Homo sapiens: one gene and its partner. The main gene of each other region encodes a partner of the protein of the gene in region 2 in a complex. Each region holds a gene or a part of one and is shown on either strand. Other genes may lie near its edges. The genes, in order: NME7 and TUBGCP3.

The links.
Region 1: TUBGCP3 (region 2) and NME7 share a complex: the UniProt entries of both Homo sapiens proteins name them as parts of the gamma-tubulin ring complex.

The regions. Positions count from the first base shown.
Region 1 is NC_000001.11:169,131,783-169,146,932, forward strand, and holds the end of NME7 (nucleoside diphosphate kinase homolog 7), read right to left. Parts: intron 1,036-15,150; coding exon 1,003-1,035; 3' UTR 749-1,002; downstream 1-748. UniProt on the Homo sapiens protein: Possesses an intrinsic kinase activity. Displays 3'-5' exonuclease activity with a preference for single-stranded DNA. Does not seem to have nucleoside diphosphate kinase activity.
Region 2 is NC_000013.11:112,581,245-112,596,929, forward strand, and holds the start of TUBGCP3 (gamma-tubulin complex component 3), read right to left. Parts: upstream 6,910-15,685; 5' UTR 6,737-6,909; coding exon 6,661-6,736; intron 6,178-6,660; exon of another isoform or gene 5,986-6,177; intron 2,918-5,985; exon of another isoform or gene 2,795-2,917; intron 1-2,794. UniProt on the Homo sapiens protein: Component of the gamma-tubulin ring complex (gTuRC) which mediates microtubule nucleation.

The DNA of each region.
Region 1 (15,150 bases), on a different chromosome or scaffold from region 2:
CCTTGGGACGTGCCCATTTTTACTGTAAATTATGATTCCGTAACTGACTTGTAGTAAGCAGTGTTTCTGGCCCCTAAGTATTGCTGCCTTGTGTATTTTATTTAGTGTACAGTACTACAGGTGCATACTCTGGTCATTTTTCAAGCCATGTTTTATTGTATCTGTTTTCTACTTTATGTGAGCAAGGTTTGCTGTCCAAGGTGTAAATATTCAACGGGAATAAAACTGGCATGGTAATTTTTTTTTTTTTTTTTTTTTTGTTTTTTGGCTCTTTCAAAGGTAATGGCCCATCGATGAGCATTTTTAACATACTCCATAGTCTTTTCCTGTGGTGTTAGGTCTTTATTTTTATTTTTTTCCTGGGGGCTGGGGTGGGGGTTTGTCATGGGGGAACTGCCCTTTAAATTTTAAGTGACACTACAGAAAAACACAAAAAGGTGATGGGTTGTGTTATGCTTGTATTGAATGCTGTCTTGACATCTCTTGCCTTGTCCTCCGGTATGTTCTAAAGCTGTGTCTGAGATCTGGATCTGCCCATCACTTTGGCTAGTGACAGGGCTAATTAATTTGCTTTATACATTTTCTTTTACTTTCCTTTTTTCCTTTCTGGAGGCATCACATGCTGGTGCTGTGTCTTTATGAATGTTTTAACCATTTTCATGGTGGAAGAATTTTATATTTATGCAGTTGTACAATTTTATTTTTTTCTGCAAGAAAAAGTGTAATGTATGAAATAAACCAAAGTCACTTGTTTGAAAATAAATCTTTATTTTGAACTTTATAAAAAGCAATGCAGTACCCCATAGACTGGTGTTAAATGTTGTCTACAGTGCAAAATCCATGTTCTAACATATGTAATAATTGCCAGGAGTACAGTGCTCTTGTTGATCTTGTATTCAGTCAGGTTAAAACAACGGACAATAAAAGAATGAACACATTCCTCGTGTGTGATTCACTCTTGTCTAAATGTCCCAACCTGTGACTTCTTTACTTTCCACACCACTAATTATCCAAGATCTTGAAGAAGTATTGAACCTGAAACGGAGAAACACATAATTTCTTAGTTCAGACAAATTTTGGTCTTTTCCACTTAACAGAGTCCAAGAGGTTGGTCAGGACTTCAGACACTGGCATACCCCTTCCCAAAGACACTAAAAGTTAATCAATCAATCAGAGGCAGAGAATCGATGAAGCTCCAGTTTGAAGTTCCATTTAAAAAAATCATCTTGCAGTGCTACTGCTACTTCACTCAGTTTAGAAAACATGAAGTGTTGGTTCCTGCTATTGCTTCACTAGACATATGTGTTAAAAAAAAAAGTTGTTAGCACTTCAGTTTTTAAAAAATGAGGTTAGGTTTGTGGTTCAGTAAATTAAGGTTCATACCTTGCTTTTTGGTTCAGGGATTGGCCTAAGTCCTTATTTAGCTGTATTTAAAAATTAGCCTTAGTGTGAAAGAAGATAAAAAAGCTTTCCAAAAAACATTTTCCAGCTATAATTATTAAAGATTTAGTATCACTTAACTAACATGGGAAATGCCCACACTAAAATCAGGGCATTGTATTTCTGAAACGGAAACCTTTCGCAAAGCCTGTGCAGGCAGAGGAGCTCACACACATCCTTGACGTGGCACTGTGTCTTCAGGGGTGCTGCCCTCTTACAGAGAGACAGATCTGGAGGCCATGGCCGTTTTGGTGAGAAATGCCAGAAACAGCTTCAGTTTCCACCTACTGCTTCATATTTATAATCACAGTAATCTATTTCTCGTTTTGCTATTTCTAGAGCAACAAATTGTGTGATGCGAAATTAGTACCAGAGGAACAATGACTCCACTTAACAAAAAAATAGCAAGGGAACTATGAAAAATGGCACAACTGCTTAACTTTAATAGTTGAAGTCTTTAGGAGACTTCAGTAGTTGAAATGACACAGAAAAATCCTCAAACTAACATACCTACATGAAACTGAGTTTCTCAAAGTAACCCACATTTATGGAAATAGAAGTTTGTCTTGCAGAAACATCAGCTCATTTTGTAAGGTGTATGTGATATTTAAATTTGTGATGCTTGTGAATAAGGGAATGGGGCTTTAGGTCTGAGGAAAGGGGAGCATTCATTCAAACTGGAGGGTATTTTGCATTTTTAAGGCTGCTATAAGGTCACGACCTTGGTGAGACTTAACCTGTTTTCGTATGTATTGTGTACTTTCTGTTCTAAGCCATTGTGTGTGTCTGTAACTTTCTCCAAGATTCTCTCCAAATCTTGCTTCTCTTAATTTCTCCAGATTGTGCCAACCTATTTCCCACTCCTGATCTTTAGTGTTATATCACCACTAGGAGACTGGGGAATGTGGTTTGTGTTCTTAGACTCAACAGATACCTACCATATGCCAAGCATTCTTCTAACAGCTAGTGAGAGATCTATCAGTGAACAAAACAGACAAAACTCCATCTTTTTTCCTCTGCTGCTCATATTCTAGTGTTAACCATTTGCATATTTCTCAGACTCTTCAATACATTTATTATTTCTTTTTAATCAGTTTATTCTGACCCTCAGTAGATGACATATTTCATGGGTGTAGGGACAGTGCCATCTATCTCCCTTGGGGTGTTCTTACATTCAAGAAATGGGTTTTCACACAAGTCCTGTCAAATACTTAATTCCTTACACAATATAAAGGGATTGAGTTTTTCAAAGATAGGCTGACTACTTGGAATGAAAAGCATTTAAATACTGAAGAGAGAAAAAGGATTCTCTTTTCAACCCTTCATATTCTCGGAAGGAAAACTGAAATACCGAGTTAGTATGTCCTCAACCCTGGTTAATTTCCCTTGCAAACAAAGAGGGACAGGCCTTGGTGTCAGAAGCTTTGCCATAAGATGTTACCTAGCTAGGATTTTTAAACTGGTTTTCATTGTATTTTATTACCTTCAATTAAGAATAGTTTAAAACAAGTAGTTTTCCATTTATAGCAGTAAAATAAATTTGTTCAAGTATAGCACTGAATGGATTTAAAGAAAAATAGTAAAATTTCAGGTGGTAAATATGATAAAAAGCATGGAAGTGATAAATGGTTGGCTAAAATTTAGGACTCTGCTTGACAGTATAGCATTTTAGGCCAGGCACAGTGGCTCATGCCTGTATCCTAACACTTTAAGAGTCTGAGGTTGGAGGATCACTTGAGCCCAGGAGTTCAAGATCAGCCTAGACAACATAAGGAGATCCCCCCGTCTCTACAAAAAAAAAAAAAAAAAAAAAAAAAAATAGCCGAGCATGGTGGTACACGCCTGTGATCTCAGCTACTTGGACGTCTGGGGTGGTAGGACAGCTTGAGTCCAGGAGGTTCAAGTCTTCAAGGCTTCGGTAAGCCTGGGCAACAGAGTGAGACCCTGTCTTGAAAAACAAAAACAAAAAAAACAACCAAAAACGGCATTACCCAGAACCTATCTACTTTAGAACAATAGCATGCCCTGTCTGCTCCAGCTGCACCTAATACCAGAGGGAACTGCTCCAACTCCAAATTAAAAACATTATCAGTGATCAGAAACAAAAGTTCCGTTATGAGAACCTTTCAAAGCTCAGTAATAGCTTAAACTCCTGGCTTCTTAAAGGATTAGTAACACTTTGATATCTGTGTATATTTGGCTCACAGAGGAGAACCAAATAACATTACCTTGAAAATCTAGGACTAAGGGACCTTATGAATACAGAGGGAAACTATCCAAGGAACAGACAATAGCAGTTTTAATTGAGTGAATAAAGTGATCTTGGTTTCAAATTCAACTGAGAAAACATGACTTTCTCCTTTTTTCTTTAAGAGGGGGCTACTGTTAACCAGACATGTTATCTGTAGTCCCCTGGGCTCTACACTGAGAAAGATGATCAAGAAATAGATAAGCCTGTTATTCTTCCAACCGATGGTTCCAATGAGCACCCATATCCTAGTCATGTGAAACAAAGGGGTGAAACAAGGCGGGTATCTTGGTTCATGCTTTAATTCTCTATTTTTCTCTGAGGGACTTTCAGCATCAGTCCTTTCTGAGGGATTAAGTATCTTACTAAGGTGTTGACTCTTATTGACTACAGAATTCAGCTCTTTCATTTAGTCACAAAGGCATCCTAGACCCTAAGAGAATGCCCATATTGTAGTAAAGCATACTATCTGTAGCTAGCTTTATCACAAAGCCTTTACAAAACTTGGATTTCATAAAATCATAGGCGGCCTCTAGGGCTATCTTTTCCAAGGAGACACATACATTCCCCCTTAGTGTTGACCCTATACAGACCAGGCAGGAGGTGACACGGGTTAATTTAAAACAGCCAGCCACATATATCGGGCACAGCCAGTGCCCGATATAGTCATTACTTGGTCTGTCTTTTGGAGTGCTTCAAGGAGTATGGAACAATCCTGCAGGAATAGGACATAGGATCCTTTCCTTTTGATAAGGAGCAGGGGTTCTGAAATAACCAGCAGGTAAAGATTAGGCCTTGGGGAGGTTCTGATGAGTCTGCTTTGGAGCCTCTAGACAGCAAGAGAATAGTATAATAGTATAATACAACTCAGGTTATACTGCAGAAAATGAAACATAATAGATGGAGAAGTCCATGCCTACCATAAACGTTTGAAACCTTTGCCTAGAGCAGGCCTTTCTTTTCTTTCATTTGCAAATTTCTCCTGAGCCACCTGCTATGTACCCAGCACTGACAATGAAATGTTGGGGTGGGGTAGAGGTAGGGGGTCACAGGGGAGTGTCCAAACACACTAGGTCCTCATGAAATTTTTACTTTTGTACTTCTAAACGTCTTACATGGTCTAAACTATTCTCATCGATACCACTTCCTTCCCCTCCTTCTTCTGCCATTCATGTAACATATTCAACATATCCAACGGATAATGATACTTGACTACCTATAAGATTAAGTTGAAGGCTCGTTCTGTCTTTATCACCATTAAATTTAAATAAGAACAATAGCTTACATTTATTTACTACTTTATAGTGCATAGTCTAATTTCACATATAAATCTCATTTCCTTCCCAATAGCTTTGTGAAGCTTGTTATTCTTTCATTAGTGTATCAGACACTTTAGAGGTGGAATGCAGGCATCTATTTTCCAATGGTTTTTAATGTTGATTGAGTATCAGAAATGCCTATGGAGTTATATTTTCTTTTAAATAAGAGTACAGATGTGCTTGAACACTTAGAGAATCTATCGCACAGTTGTGGAATTCCAGCACCAAATTAAAATATGTGTGCCTGTGTCACTACACTAGATTTTTGGATAAAATCTAGTCAGTTTGATTGAAGTGCAATTTTGTTAGTGTTCCAATAATATGATACTGAGTTTTAAATATATCAGTGTATTTAGTAGATGACCAACTTTCAACTCACTTGGGCCCCTTACAGCCAAGGCTGGCTGCATGGGCCTGCAGTCTGTGCACGGGGCCACATGCCTAGAAGAGCCTTGTGTTTGGTTTAATGCTCTGCTGCTGCTGTCTTGAAATTCTTAATGAATTTTGAAAAAAAGGCCTGACATTTTTATTCTGCACCAGTTCTGCTTAAAGCCAAGGGCGTCTACTGTAGGGTTGCTTTAGCATGGTTGTCCTAATGACTGAATGAAAAATGTGGTTGAAAAGGCTGCTTTTAAAATAAGCAATGAACAGATCGATGGTTGAGAGTTGGGCGGGTTGGGGAAGGTGCAGGGTGAGGCAGATTATGGAAGGTGTGAGCTGGCAGACTCAGCGGGCATGGAACAGAGGCCCTGTGATGGCGCTCTGCAGCCTTGGGCAGGGGTGAGGAGGGGAGGGCTTATGCTGTGGGGATGGCAAGAGGCAGCTACCAGTAGGGGATGCACATGTGAGCCTTGAATGAACCTTTGCTGGGCTCCCTTTCCCTTTTTGTCTTCCCTCTCCAAGGCACTACTTACTTTTCAGCTCCCAAAATATGGGGCTCAGAAGTGGTCAATAGTGAGGAAAGGAGTGGTAACTGAAAGAAGTCTAGGGTTCTCTGGGTGGAAAGACTCAGAGGAAACATTCAAACCTTGATAGAAAGGAGATGAAAAATCCATCCTTGCCTATTGTTGTAGCTATAGAACCCCAAAAGCCCTTGGGCTGCAGATGTACCCCCCACAAATCTATTTATGGTCTAATTAAAAAATTAAGTTGAACTTAATCATAACAGTGTCTTCTTCAGATATGCTTATCTTCTCCGTAGGTTTAGTTGACATATTTGAAATGTTTTAAGACTAAATGAGCCGGGTGCAGTGGCTCATGCCTGTAATCCCAGCACTTTGGGAGGCCTAGGCGGGTGGATCACCTGAGGTCAGGAGTTTGAGACCAGCCTGGCCAACATGGCGAAACCTCGTTTCTACTAAAAATACAAAAATTAGCTGTGCGTGGTACTGCATGCTTGTAATCCCAGCTACTAGGGAGGCTGAGGCAGGAGAATTGCTTGAACCCCGGGGGTGGAGGTTGCAGTGAGCTGAGATTGTGCCACTGCACTCCAACCTGGGTGACAGGGCGAGACTCCTCAAAAAAATAAATAAATAAAAATAAAAAAAAGACTAAATGAAAATGTCACATTAAAATGACTATACATTTTTCTAATTCTGGAAACCCAATGTCTTCAGAGTTCTCTTTTAAAAACCTCAAGGCCAGGTGCAGTGGCTCACACCTGTAATCCCAGCATTTTGGGAGGCCAAGGCAGGAGGATCACTTGAGCCCAGGAGTTCGAAACTAGCCTGGGCAACATAGAAAGACTCTGTCTCTACAAAAAAATTAACAACAAAAAAAATTAGCTGGGTGTGGTGGTGCACACCTGTAGTCCCAGCCGCTTGGGAGGCTGAGGTGAGGGGATCACTTGAGCCTGGGAAGTCGAGGATGTAATGAGCTAAGATCATGCCAGTGCACTCCAGCCTGGGTGACAGAGCAAGACCCACTCTCTAAAATATATATAGATATGTATATATGAAATTAAAAACTCAAAAGATAAAAACCTCTTGATTCCTCTGACTGCCACCCACTAAGGAGAAAATTCCCTTTTAAAAGCTGGAAGGTAATTATATCTCAGCCCAGAGTAGAGTGGTGCTGACTTTTCTCTTTATGGAAAATATTTACCTTCTTTGCTAATATAACTAAAGGCTACAACTTTCCATAAATTCATCATAAAATTGTGTTTCATGACTCATCATTATCTAGCCCCTTTTGCCTCGAAGATGGTTTTGGTTGTAACTGGTATCTCCCCAGTCTCTCAAAATATGAACAGATGTTTGTTGCTTCTGTTCCCTTCTCCTCCCTACCTGTAATGATTAAAAAGGTATTCTCTGAGAGTTTTCTCATCTCAGTGTGAACTTAGTCATAACAGTAACTTCTTAGTCATAACAGTATCTTCTTAGTCATAACAGTATCTTCTTCAGATATGCTTATCGGTCAATTTTTCCATATTTATATTTTAAATTTTACTCTTAAAAAATGAAGTTCTTGCTACATACCAAATGCTTTAACAGATTATTGTGTGTAATCCTTACAACCACCTTTATGACATTGGTATTATTAGTCCCATTTTCAGTTCATGAGACTCAAGTTTTTTGAGCTAATAATTTGCCTAAAGACATATCACTTTGTTAAATGTCTCTGGTTCAGCCTGTGCTGGTTCAGAGCTCACACTAGGGATGTAGCCTGGCTGTTGGAATTTGACTCCTAGCCCTGCCATCTCCTGGCCAGGTAACCTTGAGCAAGTTACTTAACTTCTTTGTTCCTCAGATTCCACATCTATAATGTAACAATACCTACTATGTAGGTTTGTTGTGAAGTTTAAATGAGGAATTATATGGAAGACATTTAAAATAGTGTCCAGCATAAATATTGCATAATAAATATCACTATTATTGGTTTCCAAATATTCTCCTAATGTTATGGCCCATCCTGCTGTATGTCACTGAACCCAAGTATCTCTGAATAACTCCATCAAGTGCTGACAGCCAGAACTGTCAATTCCAGCTTATCAGATGATAGCATACATAATTATTCAAGTCATGAACAGCAGAGGCAGACTAAGAAAACTTTGAAAACTAAGATAGTAAACAGACGTGAGAACCAAATGCAATATGTGATCCCTGACTGGATCCTGAACCAGAAACTATTTTTCTTCTTTTGCCACAGAAGACATTTGTGGGTAAAAAATGAAGGTCTGTACCTTGATAATAGTATCGTATTAATGTTAACTTCTTGATTCGCAATCACTTTCTGTGGTGACTGTAGATAATATCAGTGTTTTTAGGAAATATACACTGAAGTATTGAGAGATAAAGGGGAATTACATCTATAACATACTGTTAAATATTATAAATAATTAAATTCATATGTACAGAAAGACAGAAGAAAGGATGATTAACATGGTAAAATATTAACATTTGGCAAATATAGGTAAAGGGCTTGTGGAAAGTATTTTTTTAAACTTTTCTATAAGTCTGAAATTATTTCAAAATGGAATGATAAAAATATTAATCAGTAGAAAGAACAGAAAGAGTACTAGATTTGGAGTTGGAAGAATTGAGTTTTATTCTAGCCACTATTTCCTAGTGCTCTTAGGCAAATCATTTAGACTCTCTGAGCCTGTCTCCTAATCTAAAAATTGAAGATAATAAAACCTACCTCATTGGATTTAGTGGGCATGTAAGTTTCTGGGTGAATTTATAAAGTTGTAGCACATTATACAAATAATACTTTTTTAAAAAGGACATATGGCCCCATGTTCCCACTCTGAAACTAGTAGCCCAGGATGGGCTCTGCTACAAATCAGCTACAGTAAAGCTTCAGGGATGGGTTTTCTCAGTTATGAATGCCAAGCAAGCAGAGGGGAAAAACTCAGGTGACCTTGACACTTCCTCTTAGAAATTCATTTTGTGGCTCCCAGAGAAGAAAAGATTTTGACAGGGAACAGTCTATCCTTAAAAAAAAAAAAAAAAGATTTCAAATAAAAGAAATTGTAGATATAAAGACCAGTTCTCAAGATTGGTGATTTTCAACTTGGTTGTACATCACAATCACCCTATGGATCTTTAAAGAACCAAAAAGTAGATGCTTACACCCCCACCCTGGAGAGTCTGATTCATTAGGTCTTGGGTAGGTCCTAGACGTCCACATTTTCAAAGAGCTTCACAGACACTTCTGATGTCCACTGGGGTTGAAAGCCACTGCCCTAGTATTGTTTATAAGGACTAAATAAGATCCTTTATACATAGTGCTCAATAAACATTAACCCTAATCTCATCTTTTCCTTTCTCTGTGCCTCAGAGGAATGACAAACTGAAATTAGAAATGCAGATCTTGTTGACAAATGATTTACAATAAAGTTTCTGGATGAAGAAAAAAAAAGAAAACTACTGTCCTAGATAGTTAGTCAAAGTAGGTGCCTCCGAAATCAGAGCCCAAACCAAGCCCATCTGATATCATTATATGTGATCTGGGGAAAGAATAAAACCCCTCACTTAATTTGGCATTTACTAGTATCCACAGTACCTTGGAGGCACTTAACATGGATAATGTGCCAAGGAGACAGGTAGGCCTCAAAAGATGAAGTGGGGAATATGGGCAGAAAAGCAGAGTAAACTTCAACAGGATTACCTTGGGTATTGATAAGGAAATAAAGCAGGCTTACAAGATGAGTTTTATAAACAATAAACAGTGATTCGGGAAAAGGATCTTGGAGTATGTCCTCGTCATTCCCTGAATACTTGGGCCAAGACTGCTGTCTACGAGGCCATCAATGCTGATATGCTGAGTGTCCTCATAAAGGATGTTGTCAATTAAACCCAAGGAATTACAGTACTCTTTACAAGAAAAACAAACCACAGAATATTTTATTTCTTGGGAAGTTCCTATTGCTATACTTCATACACATTTCAGTTAGAAAAGCTCCAAGACAAAAATAATAGAGTTAGAAAATAGAAATAAAAATTTTTTAGAAGATGGAATGCCTTTTTTTTTATAAGGACAGATGAGAAAAGTGAAAAAGCTCTTAGATTGGATAAAAGCTGAGAGAATACATAATCAGAATTCATGAGATAATGAAGTGAATAGCTGGGATGGACTTTGTCACTTAAAATTGGAAAGAAATTGTGAAAGCATATGCTGAGGTAATTTAAGATTTAAGAGAAAATTACTTCATATATTGCTTCATTTAATTTTTACTGTGAAATGTCATTATTTCTACTCTTCAAGTAGATAAAATGAGTCTGAGAAAGGTAATTTTTCCTAAGTCATGAAGTTGGTAGGAGGAGAAGCTGGGGATTTGAACTCAGACCACCTGACTCCAGAGTCTGTGCCCAGAATCACTATACTCCTGGACCTCCCTTATACTTTAGATTTTCCAGAAGGCTAAGGAAAGCCTATATGGCATAGTAAGATTCAAGTTCAACTTTAAACTTTTGATTTACCTTTGAACTCAAGTTCAAATCAAGTAAAAGTCATTAAGAGCTCAGCTAACATCTTTCTATTCATCACTTCTGTATGCTCACAGCCTTTGGGCTGATTTTGAAATAGAAATGCTAGTCTTGCAATATTTTCAGCTAAGCCAGAATAAGATAAGATGTGTTGTTTTCCTAGGAATTAATTTCTCCATTTCTAGTCTTCAAGTTTTAGTAAAACGATGCTTGATGACTTACAGCAATAAATTCTTAACTGGTAATCAAAAAAGAATAAACTGTACTTCTGTTCATAAATAGAGGAAAGAAAAAGAAGCACCTGCAATTTGATAATTATAATAATTCATTATACTGCTTACAAAGGATACAGAGACAGTATGGCAAACTAGAAAAACCCAGGATTACTAGTTAGGAGAGTAATGTTCTATACACTAAGCCATGCAATTTTAGGTGAGCCATTTTCCTTCTTTGGGCAACACATTCCTCAATGGTAAAACCAAGGTGTCGGATTAGAATTTGATTTCCTCAAAACCTAGAATCATGGAATGTTAGTGCAGGAAAGGGGTTTAGAGGAGGGCCTCTCAATCTTTGTCACCTCATGGTGCACCTAGAAAATGCTCATTCTCGCATGGCATCCTGGAGCCGGCACAGGAAGTGGTTAAGGATTGGAGCTGCTGCCTCCAGGTCTCAGAGGATCAATTATTCAGCTCATTTGTAGGGGAGTCCAAGCTTTGAGAATTACAAGTTCAGCCTCATCATTTTCCACATGGAGAAACTAATGCCTAGACACATTTTATGAATTTATAACAACCCATAAATTAAAGTACATGGTATCAATGTATTTTCAGTTGTTATACTATTATTTAACAAATCTATCCCAACCTGACCCCCTTCAGTCCATTTTCCACATGGTAACTGGAGAGACCTCTTAAAAACTATAAACCTGATTATGTCAACGCCCATTCCCCTCAAGGGTTGCCTCCTGATGTTTTGAGGATAAAGATCCATATTCTTAAAATAGCCCACAAAGCCCTGCATGGCCCAATCTCTATTTCTCCAGTGTCACCTCAGGCTTTTTTTTTTTTTTTTTTGCATTTTATATTTCTTCTTTCCTTTTCTAAAACACACCAACCAATTCCCCGCATAAGGGCTTTAGCAAGTGCTATTTTCTCGGCCTGGAGTCAACTACCTTTTTCCTCAGCTGACACTCATTTCAGGCCTCAGTTCAAATGCCATTTGCTAAAGGAAACCTTTCTTAATCCCCCATCTACACCAGGTTCCCCGATTACAACTCATCCTGTCTTTCACTACACAGCAATAATCAGAATTTATACTTGTCCATTTCCTTTTGTGATTATCTGATTAATGTCTGCCTTCCTCATTAGACTATGAGCCCTGAATGGAATGTGTGTCTGAATAGGAGCTCTTGTTCATTACTGTCTCCTCAGTGCTTACCAATTTCTGGTGTATAGGAAAAGTTCAGTGAAATGTTCAATGAATGAATTTACGGTTTAGTTTTGGCTACAGAAGTCTTCCTGGCAACTTCCATTCATTGCACTGACAGCTCTGTACATCACATTTCTTGTAATATGAAACATGGATATGGTTATGCCTTACTTCACTCTAATTAGTGAACAGTATGGGCATTTACTTAAACTTTTCACTGCAAATATTCTCAACAATTTTTTTTTATTGTGGACAACTTTGAGATCTAATAAGCTACGGACCATTTCCCCCCCAGAATGAATACATCCACAACATTTTGCAAACAATTTCAGCCAGTCAGTCCATGGACTAACCCTATGAATAAATTTCAAACTCCTAAATTTGGCATAAAATAATTATATGACTTGAGCCTTAGCTACCTTTCCATGCTCATCTGCAATTCTCTAATGTCTTTTTAAGCTATGCTATATCAAATTCCATGTAGTTTCCCTACATGGAATTAGGGATTGCTCCTGTGAGTAGCTACTACACTGTAGCCTGGGCAACATAGTGAGACTCCATCTCAGGAAACAAAGACAAAAATAAAAAACCAAGGTAAAGAGCTAAGAGAATGGATACATAATATCCCTCAAATGAGAAGACAAACTGGAATACTAGCAAATAAAATTGAATACTTGCAATGTGTAATTATCCACAAAGGCCATTACAAGAGAATATATTATACAACATACACACTATTTCTTCAGCCTGGAATACTATTCTATGTTTTGTTTTTTTTAACATATCCTCCAATACTTGGAGCAGATTTCATATCTAACAGGAGGCTCATCTGATTCTTGTGCTGAAACCCAATAAGGATCAACCTCCTAGCATTTACTTCCTGATAGGGGCTTTCATGAAACCCAGGAAGGATCAATCTCCTAGCATTTACTTTCTGATGTCAATTTCGATAACAATTTTTCCTGGAGAATGTTAAATTCTTTGAGAATGAGGAGTGTGTCTTATTTAGCCGTAGTGCCTAGAACAGTGAATGGCACAAACAGGCCTTCAATAAATGTATGTTAACCTGAGAAGGACCAAAATTATCAATGTGAGAAGAAGCCAGGCACTGTGGCGTGCACCTGCCATCCCAATTACTGGAAGCTGAAGCAGGAGGATTGCTTCAGCAATTTGTTTATTATACAACAAAGTTATTTTTACCCCAGTAAAATGACTAAAAATTGCATTAGCCTAAGGTATCAATGTCAGTATCAGTTTCTGTTACAGAAAATCATCATGTAAACACTAGAACAATGAATTCTTTATTAAAACAAACTGAAGGCAATACTCAGAAAACGTACCATTATGATGACTTTATGGAAAGATTCAAAGCTATGCTGTGTGCTACTATTGTATAACGTTTTATAATTCTCTCTGCCTTGTGAATAGTAAGCAGCAGATTTTAGCTCTCAGATGGAGATTGTAGAGTAACAAACAAGTTAATGGGTAATGAGAAAAGTGGAGAACTTTGCACGGAAAGATATGTACACTGATATTCCAAGCAAAGAAATTATTTTTGCTGTTTTCAACTTGCGGTTTTTATTCATTTACTCAACAGATTAAGCTATTTCTAACTCTAAGGTTGGTACCAAAGGGGACCAGTATTTATCATTAGAAGAATTACCATTCATTACACAATGGAATATAAGCATAATGCATAATGGACTTTCACAGTGTGATTGGGTAGAATCCAACGAGACGGCTAATTCACTCAATTCTGTTTCACTTACTCTGGTGCTCTTCTCTCTTATGCCAGATTCATTTGTTGTCATAAGGCCAGTTATAGAAGCACAGTGGGAGGCGGGGTGGAGGTGAGGACAGAAGCATTATCAGAAGCTTCCATGGAGGCACAGTTTTTAAAATTACCCACTGAAAATCCATAGATAGCCTCATTGTAGCCTCTTTCCAGCCCCTACTCTTGCTCAGACCATAGTGGTAATGACAGAATGGGAGATATCACTCACTGATAGAGTAGACTATTCTGTAAGATGACAAGGTCAGTAAAAGCAGTAAATAAGGGTGTGCTTACAACAAAGATGGAATTCACAATGTATGTTGACCCGAATTTAAAAACAAGAAATAGAATTATGGAGGAAAATCGAATTGTTATAACCCCTAGAAACAAAAACAGCATCCAGCACAATTGTGAGTGCACAGTGCATACCACAAGAGATGTGAGCTAAATGTGGTATAATATGAGAGTATAGTGGGCCTGAAGAAGAAAGTAAAAAGTGGAGAGATACAGCATTTCATATTATTTTTATTGATTCAGAGGGTACATGTGTAGGTCTGTTACATAGATATATTGTGTGATGGTGAGGTTTGGGCTTCTAGCATACCTGTAACCATAATAGTGAAGATTGTACTCAATAGGCAATTTTTCAATCTTCATCCTCTTCTCACTCTCCCCGCTTTTAGAGTCCCCAGTGTCTATTATTTCCCTATGTATGTCCATGTGTAACCATTGTTTGGCTCCCACTTACAAGTGAGAACACAGCATTTAATATTATCGGAGGGAGAAAAGATCCCATACTACACATTTGTCTCAAATAATAAATACATCTGTGGTTTTTCAAAGAATAAGCCCTAATTTCCAAGGCAGACTTCCTAGTCCATAGCTATACCATGAGATGGAAATTTAAATGCTACAGTGATTTGGGGTGATTCACACAGGCATTCTGTATAAATTAAGCAAAAATGAATGTATTTATCAATAATTACAGATAAACTCACCAAAAGTACAGCCAAAGCCCTTTGGAGTATGACATAATTTAGCAATAAAATCAGGTGGTGTACCTAAGGGACAGACTATAACATACATATTCTTTAAATCCCAGTGACCTCTTCCCAGGGGTTAAATCAGAGGAGTCATATCAAATCCAAGAAATATCATCTTTGAATATATTTCAAAAGCCTCAAATGATTAAACCCAATGACCTTTTAATAAATGTAAAATAAATACACAAGGATATCAGCTCTAGGTCTGCCTTACTCCTTCCCTTCCTTCCACAGCCATTTGTCAATAATCAACTAAGTTACTGATAAACAGAGGCTAGGTTCTTGGGATACAAAGGTAAGACATGGCCCCTGCCCTCAAGGAGTTCACACTAAGGGGTGAACTACACAGAAACAAATAATTATTTAACAATACACCAAGTATGTTAACAGAAGTATGTATAAGGACAATGGGGACAAAGAGGAGAAAGTACTTGTGATTTTGTTCCTCATATGACACATTATTATTAGA
Region 2 (15,685 bases):
TCAGCAAGGATCCAGTGAATGCCTGCATAGTGGGGAAAGGAACAAAATGAAATCTAAAATGTTTTGTGGGGTCACAGGGTCGGGGTAGTTTTTTTCTCCTTATATTTTTCCACTTTCTGAATTTTTACACTGCGTATATATTAATTTTACAAATATTAAAAGTATCATTGAAAAGTTTCCTTTAAAAGTTGTGTCACTATTTAAGAATTTTTTTTTTCCCAGACAAGGTCTCACTCTGTCGCCCAGGCTGGAGTGCAGTGGTAAGATCTCGGCTCCCTGCAACCTCTGCCTCCTGGGCTCAAGTGATTCCCCCACCTCAGCCTCCCAAGTAGCTGGGACTACAGGTATGTGTCACCACATCCAGCTAATTTTTATATTTTCTGTACAGACAGGGTCTTACCATGTTGCCCAGGCTGGTCTCGAACTCCTGGGATCAAGCAATCCTCCCGCCTTGGCCTCCCAAAGTGCTGGGATTACAGGTGTGAGCCACCGTACCCAGCCAGTAAAAATTATTTTTAGGTTACCATTTTCACACTCAAGTACATCACATAAATATCCCCAATCCAAATGTTTTATATACTTTTCAACTTTCTCATACCAAAAAGTTAGGAACTCTTCAATGCCAGAAACACTCTCCTCTTCACCTCCTCACTTTCTCTGCACCTCAGATGGATGTCATCATTTCACCCCCACTTACCTCTTCAGCCACACCTGAGTCTCCCTGTCCTCTTACCAACCAAATTTCCAGTTTATCCTTCTTGCTGATTATAAAATATTTTTAAAAATCCAACTGTTACCTCTTAAACCAAATCTACTTAATCTGTGCTTCAGAGGGAAAAGCACAGAATCCAGACTACTAAAGAAATTAGACATAGCAATCATTCCTTGTTTAGTGAACCTGCAATCAAAGAATAAGCTGGGAAAAAATCAAGCAATGTCCACTACACGCTTCTGGTTTAAATACTCCCAAAATACTGTTCAGTGTTTAAAGTATAACTAAACTCAATCAGTAATTCAATGAATAACTCCTAAATACTTACTACAGGCCAAACACGTCAGGCCCTAACAATATGATGTACAGTGGTTAATGAGACAGACGTAGAACATAACAAATGTGGCACATAAGTACCCAAGGCAGACTGTGATAAGAGCGTCAAAGAAAATGAGGGCACTATGACAGCTCATGACCAGGAGGACCTCGTGAAGTAGATGCTGAGGGAAGGCCTTGCAGGAAACACCGTTAGCCTGGCAGCCAAGGCTGCCACGTGAGGAGCCCAGGGACCAGAGAGGGGAACCCACAGGGAAGGGCGGCACTGGACACTGCTGCTGCAGGGAGGCCGTGCCACAGGGCTCTAAATGCCACTCAGTCAGTCACTCCATCGAGAGCCCCAGGTGACAAGGTCCAGATGTAGATCTCTGATGATTCTGCTTAATGCAAGAGTGAAAAATAGAGTACTCCATTTTTTTGGCCACAAATCACCTAAGGAGAGGTCTAGTTCTCCCACCTCTAATCTGCTCTGGGTGTGTGAGGGGTGGGCAGTTCTCAGGTTCCTGGAAGGGGAGTGAACACTCCTCTGATGATCCTCTGAAATTATTTCAATGAATGCAAGGGCACACTGCCTGACCAGAGAGCAGTGCTGCTGAGTTGTACACTCTAAACACAAGAGCGGATAGAGGTGAGAAGCCATCCCACAAGCTGGGCCATGACTTATTGTCTCTATCGAGCACACAGAGAAATTCGCCATCAAATTCAACACTTAAAAGCCGGGGTGAATTAATTCAAAATATCAAGCTGTAGAATCAGAACTTGGGTTCCAACCTTGGCCCCGCAATTTACTAGCTCGATGATAGTGAGCAAACTACTTAATCTCTCAAAGTCTCAGTTTTCTCATCTAGAAAATGAGGTTCACCATAATTCTACCACAGTATAAGCACAACATCCAGCATATTTTAAGTTTTATATAAATGTTAGCTATTCGTATTGTTATTAACCTGAAAATATTAAATACATACTATATCTGCTACAGCCATTAGAATCACAACTCAAAAAATGCACCCAATTTTTAACCTTGAGCAAGATAATTTGGTCTTCATCTTGAAGACTACAAATAGAGAACAAATTAAGCCTTCAACAGATTCGATGAGATTGGTTTTCTAGAAAGGACCCTCTGACTGAAGAGGAGAAGAGGAACTAGAGGAGATACAAAGCCAAGGCAAGACCCTCAGCTGGAATTGCGTTCAGTCCCAAATGTGAAGGCTCCAGAGACACCTGGATGTGGGCCCAAGAGCTTTTAAACAAAAAAGTTGCCCTTTGTATCCCCAAAAGATTCTATATACACTCAGGTTAAAGATGACAACTGAACTTCAAGATGCACAAAAATAAATTCGACTCAAGTGAATACAGAAACTCCACAGTTGTGTGTTTCTCAAGATTCAAAAAACAACTGCGGAAAAGTTGAACTGTTTGGGGAGACCCAAGTTTCTGCCTTCCTGTTTCTTGTCGACAGCGTGGACTATATGTTCCACACTTCTGCTTTTCTGAAGGATGGGGGAGGGGTCAGGAGGGCGTTGGGAGTAAGCCACAGTGCTTAGTAGAGGAACAGAGCACATACACTAGCCACCCTTGACTCCAGATGCAAGTCAGAGTAACTTATCACGCATTTTAATGTTTCGGATGCCAAGCTCCAACAGACACCTACAGGATCAGAAGCCCTAGAGATGAAGCCCACAATATTAATTCTGAGTAAGTCCCACATTTAGAGAGTTTAAAATGAAAAGGCATGAAGTTAGATACCATAAAAAGTCCTGTTCTCAACCACTGGCCACCAGCTCCCCTTCCCACAGGCAATCAACGTTATCAGGTTCTTGTGAAATCACAGGCGATTCCAATGCATGGCTCTAGTTGAAAAGCAATGCTCTAAAACAACAAAAACATTACTCTAGATGCGTGGTTCTCAAACTCTTTGGTCTCAGGGCTTCTTTACACTATTACGATTGAGAACTCCAAAAAGCTTTTGTTTATGTAGGTTATATCTATCCACAGTTACCATATTAGAAATTTAAGCCAAAACAATTTTTAAATTTTAACTTATTGAAAAATAGTAAATCCATCAAGTACAACTTGAAACAAAGCCTGAAACTCTGAAGTTTTAATACACATCTAATGTATATCTTAATATACATGTAATACACATTGATCTTCCCAAGAATGTAATTATATAACCAAAGGAAGATCACATGGTATTTGGAACTTCATCAAAAGCTCTTTACCATTTTGGAAAATCATGAAACCAATAGCAACACCACTTGTGGTACTGAATCACCAAAACAATAATCCTTTATCTTCTGATAGTGGCTTGTAGGACACTCATAGAGGTCTTGCATATTATGGCAATCATCTTCGAATATGCTGTGTACTGTAGTCATACCTGAACATTTATGATGAAATACTTATCTAATATAAATTCCTCTTTATGTATTCTTTACCTCATAGTTAGAAAAAGGATTACAAAGTAGCTATGAAAAGAAGTGTTACCTCTGACAGATTTGAACATTAACATCAAGCACACTGTTTCCAATGATAAGAATAATTACGCAAAGACATAATAAATAAATGTGCTCCCAGGAGGGGCAGGGATATGGAGACAGGATTTGACTATGACTGGCTGGCAGTATGTGTTTCAAGCAAATTCACAGATGTTATAAGTTGGAAAAGGTGGTAAATCATGGTCATGCTAACTTTGTAAAACTGTCAAGCACCATTATATGTAGGTGCTTTGCTTCTGAAGGTCCCTTGAAGTCAACTGTATAATTTTTTAAAAGATACCTTATAAAAATGTGATTCATATGAAATTCTCATTAAAAGTAACAAGTACCTATTATGCCTTGATTTCATAGTACTAAAAAAAATGTATTACAAAAGCATAAGGCCAATTGTAATATGTCATCAAAGAATAAGGTAATTAATCAAATATTCTATGGAGTTACCAGATAAAATGCTCACTAATCAAATTTTTAACACCAAATATTGTAAAGGTAGTAATTAATATTGCTCCTTTGCTCACTAAGGTATAACAAATGAAAGAACAAGGTAAGCTACTATTTATAAATTCTTCAGTAAATAGCAGCATAATTTAAAATTATATCATAAATGCTTGACAATCCTAGCTATCTAGAACATAGCAAAAAGAGCATCACCTTTAATGGACTTCATGACATAATTTATTCAGAGAGGGCCGGGCGCAGTGGCTCGTGCCTGTAATCCCAGCACTTTGGGAGGCCAAGCGGCAGGGGGGTGGGGTGCAGATCACTTGAGGTCAGGAGTTGGAGACCAGCCTGGCCACATGGTGAAACCCCATCTCTACTAAAAACACAAAAATTAGCCAGGAGTGCTGGCATACACCTGTAATCCCAACTACTTGGGGGGCTGATGCAGGAGAATCACTTGAAGGAGGCAGAGGTTGCAGTGAGCCCAGATCATGCCACTGCACTCCAGCCTAGGTGACAGAGCAAGACTCCATCTCAAATAAATAAATAAATAAATTATTTATTCAGAGAGGACCCTGTCAGGATCTGAGAGCCCACTTTTAGACACAGTTCTAAATGGGAAGATAGTAGGATACAGAATTTTGCTGAAAAGAAGCTTTTCAGTCTCTTAGAAGGGACAAAACTTTTATATCAAAGAATCTTCAATGTAAAAAAAAAAAAGTTTTTGGCTGGGCGCGGTGGCTCACACCTCTAATCCCAGCACTTCGGGAGGCCGAGGCGGGTGCATCACGAGGTCAGGAGATCGAAACCATCCTGGCTAACACAGTGAAACCCCGTCTCTACTAAAAATACAAAAAATGAGCCAGGCGTGGTGGCGGGCGCCTGTAGTCCCAGCTACTCGGGAGGCTGAGGCAGGAGAATGGCATGAACCCGGAAGGTAGAGCTTGGCAGTGAGCCGAGATCACACCACTGCACTCCAGCCTGGGCGACCAGAGTGAGACTCTGTCTCAAAAAAAAAAAAAAGTTCTTAGGTTGAGAAATATCATTCTAGCTCATGATGAATGAATTTCAAAATCCAATTATAACAATGGGAATGTATGAATGTGTGGTTTATCCCTAGAAAAAAAAACTCTGGAACCACTGGTATAAGGAAAACACTGACATTAAGGTGGGTAAGTCCTAACAATCTTAGTTTTATCTGATTCCCCCTATGACGAGGAACATGAAACATGTGAAAGGAAACTCAGTCTGCTAATGACAAAAACAAACGATGGCAGGCCATGCTCATACCTCAAGACCTTTCCACTGGTTCTCTCTACTCAGAACCTTCCCCAGATGTTCAAATGGCCCTCCCTTACTCCATTCAGGTCTCTTTAAATATCTCAGAGGCTTTCCCTCACCTGCCTCTTCCCTCTCTATTCCTTTACCCTACTTTTTCGCCACAGTACTTATTGCTAATTAACATGGCTGGTTTATCATCTGTCTCTTCCAGTAGAGTGTCTGTCAGATCTGTGGGAGGAATGACTTGTGCATCTGCATCACCAGCACTTAGCACAGTTCCCGGGGGGAACTTTGAGGACGGGGTTGTCCTCAAAGATTTCTTAGATAAATAAAGTGATAGAATCAAACTTTACAAGATGCAGCAAGAACTGTGTGAAGTCACTCATTTAATAGCGACACAAAATTATTCATGATTGCCCCAAGATTATCATAGAACATCCAATGAATTATGTACAGTAATTGTCATGAAGCATGAAAGGTCAAAATGCATTCTCAGTACTTTAAATGTAACTTTGAAGTCTTCCTTCAAAAATTGAGTAACTTCTTTTCCACATTTTGGTGCTTAAGATGTAACTCAGTTGCTTCCATTACTCAGAAAATTCCCTCATGGTGCATCCTCACTCTCTGCCCCACCAACCTGGCCAAAACAAGGAGCAAGAAATGGCATCCTGTACCATTTCTTTCAAAGTACCTCGACTACAAAATGGTTTTACCTACCGTATAGGATTAGTTTTGCTTATTAGTAACAATATTCGCCATGTGAACTTTCCCAGAATAGTTTTATATCAAATCCAACCTTCAACCCTTTAAACAGTAGGAAAACACGGCAGTTACAGTCGTTAACACCCTCTTCCCATAATACTCAAGCCTGTTAAACTTTCCTAACGAAAAGGGACGATGATGTGACACTCCAGCACCCCGCATCCACCTCCGCGGCGCAGCCGCTCTCTCCACCCCACAGGATGAACCCAAAGGCGCGCAGAGGCGCCCTCCCACGGCGCGTGACACCAGAGAAGGGGGATAAATTGGCGAGCTGGCATTCCTCCCGTCCTCACTGACGGACCCGCGAGCGGAGTGAGCGGTGACTCAGCCCGCTCCGGCTCGGCTCCGCCCTCCCGCCTCCCGCCCCGGCGTTCTCGCCCCGGCCTTGGCCTCTCCACTCCCTCCGCCCCGGTCCTGGCCCCCAGCCCTCCGCTGTCCTCCCCGGCTCCCTGACCCTCGAACCCCAGCCCTCCGCTCCCTCGTCCGGGCCCCACGTCCTCGGCCCGTCCCCCAGCCCTCTGCCCGGCCCTGCATCCTCGTTCCTCCAGCCCCGGAACGTATTAGGGCTGCACGCGCAGGGAGCAGCCCCCGGGACGGGTCTGCGGGCTTCGCGTCGCCCGGCCACTCTACCTTCGCTCCTGCCCAGGATCCTGCAGCACAGGTTCTGCAGCAGAACGTTCGGCGACTTCTGGTCCGGGGTCGCCATCCTCGCCCGGAGCCGTGCACGGTGGTCCGGGCAGAGCCGCCACTGCCGCCGCACGCGCAGGGACCGCGGCCCGCGCCCTTCCTGCGCCCCGCAAGCTCCCTGCTCCTGACAGGCTAAGGCGCGGGCGCCGCCGGCCACCAGGGCGCCATTTTAACGGAACCCGCCGAAAGCGCGGGCGCTTCCCACAATGCCCCGCTTCTTCCCTGCGCCGCGGCCGCGCGTGCGGCTGCCTAAGCGTTCCCGGCCCTGTCTGGTGCATTCCCCCTGCTGCTGCCCGGTCGGCCGAGAAAGTTCCGGGCGACAGGTGGCCCGAGGCCCTCGAGCTGCGCGGACAGAGCGGCCCCGGAGTCGCGAGCGTGACGGGCTTGCTTGGAGGGCACTTGGTGGCCGGTAGCACCATAAAGGCCATAATTTGGTGTGTGGGTGTGGGGGTGTGTGTGTTAACGGCATTGGTTTGATTCACACTTCTGATGAAAGAAGCCTGTTTAAAAAAGAAAAGAAAAAAGAAGCCTGTTTAAAGGGTGCAGGGTGTTACGATTGTTAACGTGCAGTGGGCAGTTCACCTGCTACGCTATCCAACAGGCGCCCTGCTCAGGCCCGACCTCGCACTGCCGCGCGGGCCGGTCCCCCCCGGCCCGGGTAACTGGGACGTCCTGGGAAAATAAATTAATCACGTACGGAGTGAGAGAACAGGAAACCTGCCGAGAAAAAGATCGATAAGCAGACAATTACACCAAGCCAACTTCAGTGCAATCGTTAAAGCTTACACATGGGTGCACGCTTGGGAGCCGTGAGCTACCATGTTAAAAGGCCAACTTCCTAAGGAAAAATGATGGAAAGAGATCCCGAGATCCTATGAAATGGAAGAGGGAGGACAACCCAGCTATCCCAACATCCCAGCTGAGGCCAGCCACACACGTGACTGTCTGCAAAGCCCGTCGGGCCTGGGTCCAGCTCAGGTTGCAGAATTGTTGGCAAGTAAAACGTTTGTTGTCGTTCTGACTCAAAAACATGGAGACAAAGCAGACTTGTAGGGTATTACAGTCAACAACTAGACCCTACAGCTAAAGGACTGTCTCCTTGCATGATGCAACAACCATCACAGCTCTGCAAGAGCAACCAAACCACCAAGGATGCGATCACCCCTCACTGCCTTCGATACGCATTCTGTGGAAACGCTTCTAAACTTGCATCACACTCAACACGATCAGTTAGTAACTGGCTTCTCATGAAGTTATTCTCTCAGCCGCATACTACAATGTCCAGATGTCATCTAAATCCTGCCACCCTCTCCCCCACCTTCAGCTGAAACGCTGCATGACTGCATCATCTTACCTGACCAGCTCTCTCCTAGGACAGACATGCAAGAACCCCCCTCACTAACGCTGATGTTATTTGGTTTACAGATGGCTCTTACTTAAAGATGCAGCTGGAAGGTATTACACTGGTTATGCCATAGCGTCTTTGCCCAAAGAAATAGAAAGTGCTTGTCTTCCAGGAGCAATCATCTCAACAAGCAAAGTTAATAGCATTAATTAGAGCCTGTCAGTTGGCAAAAGGAATAACTGCTAATCTTTATACCAATAGCAGGTATGCTTATAGAGTAGCTCATAACTTTGGAATGCTATGGAGACAAAGGATTTTTAACCTTTTCTAGTCAGCCCACAAAAAAATGGGTGCCTTGTTTCAGAATTATGGCAAGCCATACTATTGCCAAAATCATTAGCCATTATCAAGATTCCAGGCCATTCAAAGACACTCAAAAAAGCAAGATAAGCCAGTTAGCAGGTAGTATAGCAAACAGGGTGGCCATAAACATATCTGAACAAAAAGATCAAACCATTTTGGCCTTTAAGGAAGTTAGATTTTTATGTAAAATTAGCTCAATCTAAATCTCCAAAAACAGGACGAGAAAATTGGGAAACAAAAGTGGCACATGCGCTTCTGAGACTGATGTACGGTTTGACCAAATGTTCTACTCATACTTCCAACTAAGTTACAACCATCTTTCTTTTTTTTTTTTTCTTTTTCAGATGGAGTCTCGCTCTGTTGCCCAGGCTGGAGTGCAATGGCGTGAACTCCACCTCCTGGGTTCACGCAATTCTCCTGCCTCAGCCTCTTGACTAGCTGGGACTACAGGCACCCGCCACCATGCCGGGCTAATTTTTTGTATTTTTAGTAGAGACGGGGTTACACTCTGTTAGCCAGAATGGTCTCGATCTCCTGACCTCGTGATGTGCCCGCCTCGGCCTCCCAAAGTGCTGGGATTACAGGCGTGAGCCACCGCGCCCGGTCCAGCCATCTTTCTTAACGTGCATACACGATGTGACTCACTGGAGCCCTGATAAGATTATTGATTTCTTGAGGAGAACAATGTTGTCGGAAACCTTCTCCAACTGTTGCTCACGGGTATACAGTCAGGGCTGTCTTCCCAGAATATAATGCAAGGAAACCTTGACCCAGTTCTCCATGTCATTTTCCTTTACCAGAAGGCCCTTTCGAGGTATGGCAACTAGATTTTTTCAGCTACCACCATCACAAAGATACAGGCACATCCTAGTGATGGTTTGTGTATTTTCTCATGGGTAGAAGCATTTCCATGCAGAAGAGCAGCAGCCTTGGCGGTAAGTAAAATTATCTTAGAGAAAATTATTCCGATTTGGGGAGTTCCTCAAGAACTTTATAGCAACAGAGGCACTCATTTCACTGCACAAATAATCCAGTTAGTATGCAAAATCTGGCCCATTTTCCAGCATTTCCATTGTGCCTATCACCCCAGTCATCTGGGTTAGTAGAATGCACAAGCAGAATAATCAAAACTCATTTGGCAAAATTAACTGAAGTTTTAAAACTCCCTTGACTGGAAGCTCTTTCTTGTTTTTGCTTCACCTAAGATCAGCCCTTATGGGTAAACACCAACTGTCTTCATCTGAAATTATAACGGACAGACCTATGAAATTGTCTCCAGGAAATTGTAAATCGATGATATTAAAAAGGGACAGGTTGTATTATTGCAGCAGCCTCATAAGGCACCTAAGTAAAAACTGTTATTTAGTAAAAGATTCTTTCCACAGTGAGCTCCAAGAAGCAAAAACTCAAGGAACACATACTTCAGCCAGGAGACTTTGTAGGAAACAGCATCCTTTAAAGGACTTTCTCCACCAAGGAGGAAGGAACCTTATCAGGGACTCCTAACCAACCCTTGTGCCACTAAGCTTAAAGGAGTTGATTCCTGGATACCTGCCACCCATGCAAGGAAAGCTGCTTTGTCAATTTGGACTTCATCTCAAATTGGTGATCTAAAACTAAAACTCTCCAGAACCAACAAGGATGAGAAGAAAACAACATGTGAGGCGATCAGCCTTCTCAAGACACCTGACCAGGCCTGTATCTAGACAAACCCTTAATATAATCATCGTCAGTAGATGAGGAAGGTCTTCCTTTACAAGTTCCCACCACACTTCCTTCTTTTTGTCCCTAGTTCTTCTGTTTTGTTGCTACCATCACCAGCCATTGCCCATGAAACAAACATCTTCTTGCAGTAGGCTTGGGCCTGTGCTAGTAAATTACAGGACAACACTCGTTAGGTGTGTGGCCTTGCGCCCCTTTCTGGTGGTTCTGGCCTACCATGGTGGCAGCTCCTCTTCAAGGACAAGAGTAGACAGAATATCAGAAATGTGTCTGTGTTTCTCAGGACAGTCATTGGTGCTTAGCACTAGTATGATGAAGGCAAGTGTGCATCACTGGCCTATGAATGATACTTTACAAAGCAAAAGCCATAGGAAGAGCTTTCCAGTAAAAGTCCACATACCTTAATGCTGGTACTACACCAGCTGAGAGATTAGACCACTCAATATCGGGATGGCATAACACAAACTTGGGATGGTTTCACCTGACTTACCCTCTCTTTGGGTCAACTTAGTTCACGTGCCCCTTTACATTGGGAACAAAAGAATCATATCAAAGATCCCTGGCCCAGGAGCACTGGAGATACGGGATGGAACCCAGAGAACAGTGCATCTACACCATTGTGTTACAGAGTCCTGGCTGGCATGCCACTGAGTGGGCATAGTGACCGGGTGTTTACTGGTTGGCTCCAGATGGAACATCTGGACTCTGTGATAATGACCTATGGCCATGGTTACCCCCAAGGTGGCCAGGACACCATTCTCTGCATTATGCCTGGACATAGGATGGAATAGTTCACAACCGACATAGATAGTAGATAAAACTAGGTAGTCTGAATAATTCAAAGTATGGACTTTGATTCATAATGCTTCAATACTGGTTCTTAAATGTAACAAACAACACACTTTTAATCTGTGCATTGTGAGGTGCTGAGCGAGAGGGGCCGGCTGCCAGGTGCCGGGTGGTGGGTGGGTCAAAGGCCAAACGCAGGTTCCACCAGGCAGGTGTCACTCCCGGCAGGAGTAGAAACCAGAGGCCTCACTGAGAGTGCCAGCCCCCACCCTGGTGTTTCATTTTCCCCCACGGCACTGGGTGAAGGTTAGGTGTGTCTGTGAAGACAGCAGTGAAGGGATACTGTCTCACTGCCCAGAGAGCCCCTAACAAAAGGTTTCTGCCATTCTATGGCCCTGGAGTCAGGGGAAGAGAGAGAGGGAGGCAGCTGAGAGTGGAAAAGTGCTGAATGCAAAGTCAGAGTGGGAAAAATGTCTTCCAGGCCCCCTGAAAAGGAGGCTTTGGCAGAGGTACCTAAGACAGGCCTCAGCCAAGGGACCCATGTGGTCTCGGAAGGGAGGTGCCTGGGTTGGGCACAGGGGATACCCAGGGCACCCAGGTCCTTCCCCGCAACAGCCTTCAGACACGGCAGTGCACTGGCCACACACCATGAGGCAGCCAGGTGGGGCCTTTGTCATCACCCGTGGTCAGACCTGAAAGATCCCACAGGGCATTTGGGCTGCAGCCAGCCAACTTTCCAGGCAGCATGTTGCATTCCAACTCTGTTTCAATAAAACTAGTTTCGAAAAAGAAAGAAACATTTCAAAATATTGACGGGATGCTGCTAAGTTTTGATCGTTGCATTAGAAAGAAAGAGATTAAAGGAATAGTTTAAGCTTCCGCACCAGGAATCTAGAAAAGGAAAACCAAATCAAGCTCAAACTAAGTAGAAGGAAGGGGAGTGAGATCAGAATGGATGCTGGGCGCGGTAGCTCACACCTGTAATCCCAGCACTTTGGGAGGCCAAAGTGGGTGGATCACCTGAGGTCAGGAGTTTGTAACAAGGCTGGCCAACATGGTAAAACCCCATCTCTACAAAAATACAAAAATTAGCTGGGCGTAGTTGTACGCACCTGTAATCCCAGCTGCTCAGGTGGCTGAGGCAAGAGAATCACTTGAACCCAGGAAGCAGAGGTTGCAGTGAGCCACGATGACACCACTGCTCTCCAGCCTGGGGGACAGAGAGAGAGACTTTATCTAAATTCCAAAACTTTGGGAGGCCAAGGGCAGATCACCTGAGGTCAGGAGTTTGAGACCAGCCTATCCAACATGGTGAAACTCCATCTCTACTAAAAACACAAAAATTAGCCAGGCATGCTGCCGCGTGCCTGCAATCCCAGCTACTCGGGAAGCTGAGACAGAAGAATCCTTTGAAACTAGTAGGCGGAGATTGCAGTGAGCTGACACCATGCCACTGCACTCCAGCCTGGGTGACAGAGCAAGACTCCATCTCAAAAAAAAGAAAAAAAAAGATCCGAATGGCAAACAGTGACCTAGAAAACAGTAAGACAAATACGGAAAACAGAAGAAACTAAAAGAAGTTGATTCTAGGAAAACAAACTGATCAGATTTGCTAGACTGGACAAGCCAAAAGGAAAAGAAAAAAACAGAAATATGCCAAATCAGGAATAAAAGAAATAACATACAAGGGTCCATGGTGAAACTAAAAATATCACAAAGAAATTTTAAAATGTTTAAAAAAATAGATAATTTAGATAAAATGGACAAATTCCTAAAGAGACATAAATTATGAGCACTGACCAACAATGAATAGAAAATTTGAACAGATGTATAAGTAACCAAGTTGAATTATAGTTAACTACATGCCCACAAAGAAAAGATCTGAGCCAAATGGCTTCATTGGTGAATTTTCTCAAATGCTTAAGAAACAAATGATATCAATCTTACAGGAAATAGAGACAAAATAACACTTCCCAAATATTTTACAAGGCCAGTATTAACCTGATACCAAAGCCAGGCAAACACATCATAAGAAAACTATAAAATGAGAAAGGTACAACTTTTTAACAAAGTGATTGCAGATTAAATCCAGCAACATGACCAAGTGGGGTTTATCTGAGGAATGCAAGGTTGGGCTAACATCTGAAAGCCAATTAATGTCATAACTCCTCAATAGAATAAAAGAAAAAATCCATATGACCTTCTAATAGCCACAGAAAAAGCATTTGACAAAACCAACCCTTTCATAATAAAAACTCCCAACCTAAGACTACAAAGAAACTTTCACAACCTGATAAAGGTCATCTATAAAATAAACCTGCAGCTATCTAAGTTTCAGAGAATCATCTTTTTGTCTTATTTGTTTCCTCTGTTATGTCTCTGCTTTTATTTCATTAATCTCTTCATTATCTCCTTCATTCTGTTTGCTTTGGGTTTATTTGCTCTTCTATTTCTAGATTCTTGAGGTGAACACTTAGGTTATTGTTTGAGACTTTTCCTCTTTTCTAATGTAAACATTTAGTGCTATAAATTTCTGTCTAAGCACTGCTTTGCTGAGCTTTTGAATTTTGATATGTTGTATTTTCATGTTTATTCTGTTGAGTGTACTTTTACGTATTTCTCTTGATCCTTATTCTTTGACCCATGGATAATGAAAAGTGTGTTATTTCTTTTTCATGTGTTTGGAGATTTTCCTGTTATTTTGTTGTTGATTTCTAGTGGGGGTAAGAGAAGACAGACTAAGATTTTAATTCTTTTAAATATGTTGAGGTTTGTTTGATAGTCAGAAGTGGTATATCTTTTTATATGTTTTGTGGGCACCTGAAAAGAATATATATTCTGCTGTTGTTGATCGCCATGTTCTCCAAATACCCATTAGATCCAGTTGATTGTTCATAAGTTGTTCTCTGTCCTTGTGAATTTTCTGTTTAGTTGTTCTATCAATTGGCGGGAAAGGAGAGTAGGGTCTCTAACAATAATTGTGGATTGCTGTTTCTCTTTTGAGCTCTATCAATTAATACATTTTTTTTTTTTTGAGACAGAGTCTCGCTCTGTCACCCAGGCTGGAGTGCAGTGGTGCAATCTCAGCTCACTGCAAGCTCCACCTCCCGGGTTCACACCATTCTCCTGCCTCAGCCTCCCCAGTAGCTGGGACTACAGGCACCCGCCACCACACCCAGCTAATTTTTTTGTATTGTTAGTAGAGACGGGGTTTCACCATGTTAGCCAGGATGGTCTTGATCTCCTGACCTCGTGATCCACCCGTCTCGGCCTCCCAAAGTGCTGGGATTACAGGCATGAGCCACCCTGCCCAGCCAATTAATACATTTTGCAGCTCTGTCGTTTAGTGTATATATGTTTAAAATTGCTATGCCATCTTAGCAAATTGACCTTTATCTCATTATATAATTGTCTTGGCTCTGAAGTCTACTTTATCTGATATTAATAGGACTGCCTCTTTTGATTGTTTGCATGGTATATATATTTTTCTATTTTTTTCCCCTTTCATTCTACTATGCGATTGTGATTGAAGGATAGACAGCATATAGTTGGGCCATTTTTTTTAATGCTGCCTTCTAATCTCTATCTTCTAGTTGGTATATTTAGACCATTTACATTTGATGTAATTTGATATGTAAGGCTTGAGTCTGCTATTATATTTTTTGTTTTCTATTCATTCTCTGTTTTCCATTTCTCTCTTTTTTGTGCTTTCCTGTGAATTATTTGAACAATTTTTTTTAGAATTCCAGTTTGATTTGTCCATAATGTTTCCCAGTGCATCTTTTTTGAGGAGTTTCTTTAGGTGCTACTTTACATGTACATAACTTATTTCTGTCTACTGCTGTTGATATTTTATGGTGTGAATGAACGCAATCTCCTTTTATGTCCCTTTACATTCCCCTGTTTATGGTATAAATATTTCCTCTACAAACATTGAGAACCACGCTAAATGGTGGTACTGTCTGTGCCTCATATATAATTTAGAAAACTCAAGAGTAGAAGAGAGCCTATTGTAGTTATTCATATTTTCATTCTTTTCATTGTACTTTCTTCCTGATGTTTCGTGATTCTGTCTTTTTCATTTCCTATTTCAAGAACTACCCATTCTTTTGGGATAGGTATGATGGCAGCAAATTCTTTTTGTTTTCCTCCATGTGAAATATCTTGACTCTCCTTTCATTCCTGAAGACTATTTTCACAAGATATAGAATTCTGAGTTAACACTTGATAAATGTTGTGCCACTTCCTTCTGGCCTTTGTGGTTTGTAGTGAGAACTTTTCTTTCATTCAAATAGTTTTCCCCTGATGCTAGGATGTTATTTCTCTCTGGCTGTTTTCAATATTTTTTTTTCTTTGTCTTCAGTTTTTCGGAGTTTGACTATGAAATGTCTTGACATGGTTTCCTTGAGTTTGTTCAGCTTCTTGAATCTATAGGTTTATGTCTTTTGCCAAATTTGGGGATTTTTCAGACATTATTCCTTGACAACTTTTTAGTCCTATGCACATTCTGCTCTCCTTCTAGAACCCTGGTGATGTGGATGTTAATTATTTTGTTATAGTCCCATGGGTCTCTGAGGCTTTCTTCATTTTTAAAAAATATATTTTCTCTTTGTTGTTCAGATTGAATGACTTCTATTATTCTAACATTTCCAGACTTCTATTTTGGGTAATGAAAGACTAGTTAATTCAGACCAATCCTCCCATTTCAAACACATGAAACTAGTGGATACAATATAAAAACCATATGTT